Linked DNA regions of Homo sapiens: region 1 is linked to region 2. Evidence: fine-mapped expression QTL. Tissue or cell type: whole blood. Region 2 holds a variant in brackets; the other region holds the start of a gene. All regions are shown on one strand. Distances are from middle to middle.

Region 1 (2,687 bases), 23 kb after region 2:
GGACACCAGAGGGAGTCAGAAATAAAGCAAAGGAGGGAGAGGTGGATGAGAAATTAACAACTACGACAGGAGCTGACAGTAATCTGGGCTATCATGAAAGTAATCAGAGTGACTGCTAGAGAGTAACCCTGGGCCTCATGTGTTATCTCCAAAGGGACACTACATCCTGCATACCATCGCCACTGAACATTTTAATGGACTCGTTTTTCACCTGTAACTAAATGTCTTAAACAGGAAAATATACTGTTAGTTGCAACCCAGCGTCCCTTGCCCTAAACTGAAAGACAAATTCCTCAGCCTGCCCTACCACCTTTTCTGCCCTGGCATAGCAGCAACCGCAGAAACGCTCCTCCCACCTCTTTCAGCCGCTGCCCTTCGTGTTGTAGAGACAGGAGGCCAAGGAGGCCAGAGGGTCAGACTCCTGCTGGGGTTGAGTCTCCAAACCTAGCACAGGCCCAGGGAGCAGCTCCGGAAACAACATCCTGAGCGACGTCCCCGGACCGTGCTGTGCACTGAGACGGACACACACACATCACCCAGGGAGCCGTTCAAGCTTCCTCAACCCCGGGGGGGGGAAGAGTAAATATTTCTACTTTGCGCGCGCAAAAATGAAGGACGAGGACAGTAACGGGACTTGTTCAAGGTCGCAGGCCCGAGAAAGGACATGGTTGGAAGAGCCACGAGGAGGACTGCGGTCGCTCCTCTCACCTGTGAGGGGTTCCGGGACCCTAAAAGCCCTATTTCATACCACAACGCCGCGCACCCCAGAAACGGGGACGCTCCCCACGCCACCGCGGGCCTGCATTCCGGACCCGGGACCGCGCGACCCCCTTCTAGGCCTCTAAGAAGCAACGGCAGGGACTGCACTGAGGACGACCCTGAAACGCCGTCCTTCCGCTCGTCGGGCCCGGGACACTGAGGCCGGGTGGCCGCGGGGAGCCGAGCCAGTCTGCTCACCTGCGCTGCGTCCTTCGTCTCCGCCATCCGACCGTTGGCAGGACGAGGCCGCGTGGGGCAGCTCCCACGGGCTCAAAACCCTACCCCGGGTCCTACAACGGTGCGGAGGTGAGCCCCAGTCGCCCTACCATCCTTCCCAGCACAGTTCTGAGAGCGCGGACCAACACGCCCCACCACAAACGTCCACGCCAGCGAGGCCGGAAGTCCCGCCCCTGTGTCGCGGTCGCCTGCCACGCCTTTTCCTGCGCCGGCCCACTGCCTTCTAGGTAATGTAGTCTTGTCCCGTAAGAGGCCAGGCTTGGCTCTTTTTCCTTTTTTATTATGCACACCATGTTTCTGTATATCTCAGATGATCTTAGCGGAGCAAGTGTACACACTGGATTGTAAATTTTTAAAACTTCCTATTATTCGGATGCCTCAACGTCCCTACAAGCAGGCTGTGAGCACTCGCCCAGGCACCCAGGTAAACGAGTTTGATAAAGGGGGCCCTGCCACGAGGTTCCCCGCTTGCCTCCTCTGAGTGACCCAGTGACATTCCCATGTACCAGTAAAATCTTACGCCTGGTTACTGCGTCCTCCTCCACCCTGACGCCAGGCACTGTCCCTGGGACTGGCGTGGATCTGGACCCCCGCTTCCCGCGTGGAGCCATTCCCGGGACATGCTCGTGGGGTTCCGTCTGTGGGACGTCTGCCTCCTCTGTGTGGACTGGTGTTGCCCAGGGCTCAGGAAGGTCTCCAGGGGCCGTGAGTCCCCGCCCGCTTCCGGAGTCCAGCTTCGTGACACCATCGTGAGAAAGAATGCAGGGATGAGTCAAAATGAAGCCAAAGGCAAGAAGCTTTTATTGGGAAGAAAAAGTACACATTTTTGAGAAGAGTGTACTTTTCCCAAGAGAAGAGGGAAATGCGGACGTACGAGGGAGAGCGGGTCATGCACAATGGAGTTTGGGTTTCTAATTTTATGGGCTCTTCTAATTAGGGGGTGGGATAATCATGAGGTTTTTCTAGGAAAAGGTGGGAATTTCTTAGAATTGGGGTGCCAACCATTTTTATACTAAATGTGGGCGTGCTTGGATTGGCCTGGCACTGGTGGGTGTGTGATTTAATGTGGCAATGAGTGTATAATTAGGTCTGGGGTAGGAAATGGGTCAAATCTAGCGTCATGGGACAGCCTAGCCCCAATCCTGTTTGTTAAGGTCTCATCAGCCCAGTCTTCTTGTTGGAGTAGCTAATTTTAACAGCTTGATGTTTTCCCCCTTCTCCTGTGACCACACAGCATTCCTATTTTGTGGGTGTTTCTTTAATTAGAGAGTGGAATAATTATTAGGTATTCTGGAAAAGGAGGGAAATTCAGGGACCCACCTGGTTACTGCCCCCTTTCTCTCTTATTTGGCTTTGCCCAGAAGAGTCATGGACATGTCATCCTGACTGGGATTTTGGCCATTCTTTCTCTTATTTTGGGTTTTCTGTTATCCTATGGTTTCTTTGCCTAGTTCTTGTTTTTATTTGTTGTTCGAATTTTTCCATCCTCCTGCAACCACCCAGTGCTATTCCTATATCACTGTGAGTATAAACACCCTTTAACCTTATAGGCTTCTTGAAGTATAATTCCCAAGACCATGTTGCAGTGGTCCTTAAAGAACCAATAAGGCAGAGAGAAACAAACATGTTCCAAATTTTGTTCTCAGGAGTAAACCTTACTCAATTGTTAAAGGCTGTAGCTAGCTCAAAAG
Region 2 (2,687 bases):
ACAGGTTCTCCCCCTGCCTTTAGTAGACGTGTCTTTGGACCTGCCTTTCTCAGGAATTACAGGTACTTACATGGTTGCTATTTGTAGGGAACCCTAGACTATGACAGCAAGACCCCCTCCCAAGGGTTTTTTTGTAATAAATTTCCCTCCTGTAGTCTGTCATGGGTTGGCGCACCCTGGGCCAGTGTTGTTGACCCACCTCCCTGTTTTTCCCTTAGGATTTCTTCTACCTTCCAGGACCCAGATAGTCTCCTGACTTAAGCTGGGGACAGGGGAGAGGCCTGTGTTCCTGAAAGCGTAGTGAAGTCTTCAGCCACAGCAAGGGGGGTTAACAGGGTTTGGGACCTGTGAGTAGGAGCAGTGGGAGGGCATGATTTGAGGGCTGAACTCAAATCATACCAGGCAAATGTCCTATGTTCCCCACTATTTTGGTGCCAGGGCTCATGGCCATACCTCATTTTTCTCTTTTCTCTGCCTGCTTGACAATTTGCCTACTTGTCGTTTCTACTGTGATTGTCCCCTACCTCTGTTCTCCACATCTCTCCTGTTCCTGTTCTGCAGTGTTCTCCAACATTAGCCTATACCTAATGTATTTAATATTATGAGCTGTGCAGATACAGATGTTCCTCAGCTCGTGATGGGGTTATATCCTGATAAACCCATTGTAAGTTGAGAATATCGTAAGTCAGAAATGCATTTAATACACCCAACTTATTAGACATCCTAGCTTAGCAACACAGTAGAGTGTCAGTTGTTTAGCCTGGTGATTGCATGGCTTACTGAGAGCTGCAGCTTGCTACCACTGCATCACAAGAGTATACACACTGCGTATCACTAGCCTGGGAAAAGTTCAAAATTCAAAGTATGGTTTCTACTGAATGTGTCACTTTCGTATCATCATAAAGTGGAAAAATCATAAGTTCAACCATTATAAATCAAAGACTGTCTACTTAAGCTCTCAAACATCAGCTATCCAGTTGTAATTGCATTTTCCTGGGGTGACACACATTCTATGCAGGTCTCCCCTGTCTCCATCAGATGACGTCCTATTGAAAACCATTGACAGAGAAGGGAGTTGTATGCCCCCTGCCTCTCTTCCCACCATAGTACCCCATTCCTTGTTCTCTTGCTGGTTATGGGTCTTCCCCTACATGGTAACCTTAAGAGGCCTAATACTGCAAGTATTATCTTCCTTGACCTGACTCCAGCTCCCTTGTCCTGAAAACAAACCCATGGCCTGGGTGCAATGGCTCGTGCCTATAATCCTAGCACTTGGGGAAGCTGAGGTGGGAGGATCACTTGAGCTAAGGAATTTGAGACCAGCCTCGACAACATAATGAGACCTGTATCTCCACAAGAAATTCTAAAAAAAAATTAGCCAGGTATGGTGGTATATGCCTGTAGTCCTAGCTACTTGGGAGGCTGAGATGGGAGTGTCACTGGAGCTTGGAAGGTCAAGGCTGCAGTGAGATATGACTGCAACTGCACTCCCATCTGGGTGACAGAGCAAGACCCTATCTCAAAGAAAAACCATGGACTCGTCCCTCCCTGTGTTCCACAGGTATTTGTAATGGAGCTGTTCCCTTCTACCAAAGTCTGCATATACTTCACTTGCATTTTTATGCTTTTAGG[T/A]TGTTTGCATGGAATAGAGGCTGAGGAGGCCCCTTCTGAGCAGACTCTTTCTGCGCAAGGAGTGTCACAGGCCAGGACTCCAAAGCTAGGTCCTTCCATCCCAAATGCTCATTCTTGTGAGATGTGTATCCTGGTCATGAAAGACATTTTGTACCTCAGTGAGCATCAGGGGACACTTCCCTGGCAGAAACCTTATACGTCTGTGGCCAGTGGGAAATGGTTTTCATTTGGTTCTAACCTGCAACAGCACCAGAACCAGGACAGTGGAGAGAAACACATCAGAAAGGAGGAGAGCAGTGCCTTGCTTCTGAATAGCTGCAAAATTCCTCTGTCAGACAATCTTTTCCCATGCAAAGATGTTGAGAAGGATTTTCCAACCATCCTGGGCCTTCTCCAACACCAGACCACCCACAGCAGACAAGAGTATGCACATAGAAGCAGGGAGACCTTTCAACAAAGACGTTACAAATGTGAGCAAGTTTTCAATGAGAAAGTTCATGTTACTGAGCATCAGAGAGTCCACACTGGAGAAAAAGCTTATAAGCGTAGGGAATATGGGAAATCCTTGAACTCTAAATACTTATTTGTTGAACACCAGAGAACCCATAATGCAGAAAAGCCTTATGTGTGCAATATATGTGGGAAATCATTCCTCCATAAACAAACACTCGTTGGGCACCAGCAGAGAATTCACACTAGAGAAAGGTCTTATGTGTGCATCGAATGTGGGAAATCCTTGAGCTCCAAATACTCACTTGTGGAACACCAGAGAACCCATAATGGAGAAAAGCCTTATGTGTGCAATGTATGTGGGAAATCATTCCGCCACAAACAAACATTTGTTGGCCATCAGCAGAGAATCCACACTGGAGAGAGGCCTTATGTGTGTATGGAATGTGGGAAATCTTTTATTCATTCCTATGACCGCATTCGACACCAGAGAGTTCACACTGGAGAAGGGGCTTATCAGTGCAGTGAATGTGGGAAATCCTTCATATACAAACAGTCACTTCTTGATCACCATAGAATCCACACGGGAGAAAGGCCTTATGAGT

What was found. PIP is the estimated chance that this variant, and not a neighbour inherited with it, causes the effect.
Region 1: ZNF550 starts here. The variant in region 2 is fine-mapped to the expression of ZNF550 in whole blood (TOPMed, PIP 0.96).

The regions. Positions count from the first base shown.
Region 1 is chr19:57,558,699-57,561,385 of GRCh38, forward strand. ZNF550 (zinc finger protein 550) reads right to left here and starts at 1,165. Exons shown (of 4, transcript NM_001397372.1): 1 at 958-1,165. The coding sequence starts at 984. LOC124904781 (a long non-coding RNA gene) reads left to right here and starts at 1,244. Exons shown (of 2, transcript XR_007067357.1): 1 at 1,244-1,420. RefSeq lists enhancers at 207-286, 431-1,295, 737-786, 1,273-2,472, 1,417-1,526.
Region 2 is chr19:57,535,573-57,538,259 of GRCh38, forward strand. ZNF549 (zinc finger protein 549) reads left to right here. Exons shown (of 4, transcript NM_001199295.2): 4 at 1,632-2,687. Among named protein-coding and RNA genes, the nearest start is that of ZNF549, 9.6 kb to the left of the region's middle. The variant T/A (reference allele first, on the strand shown) is at 1,633.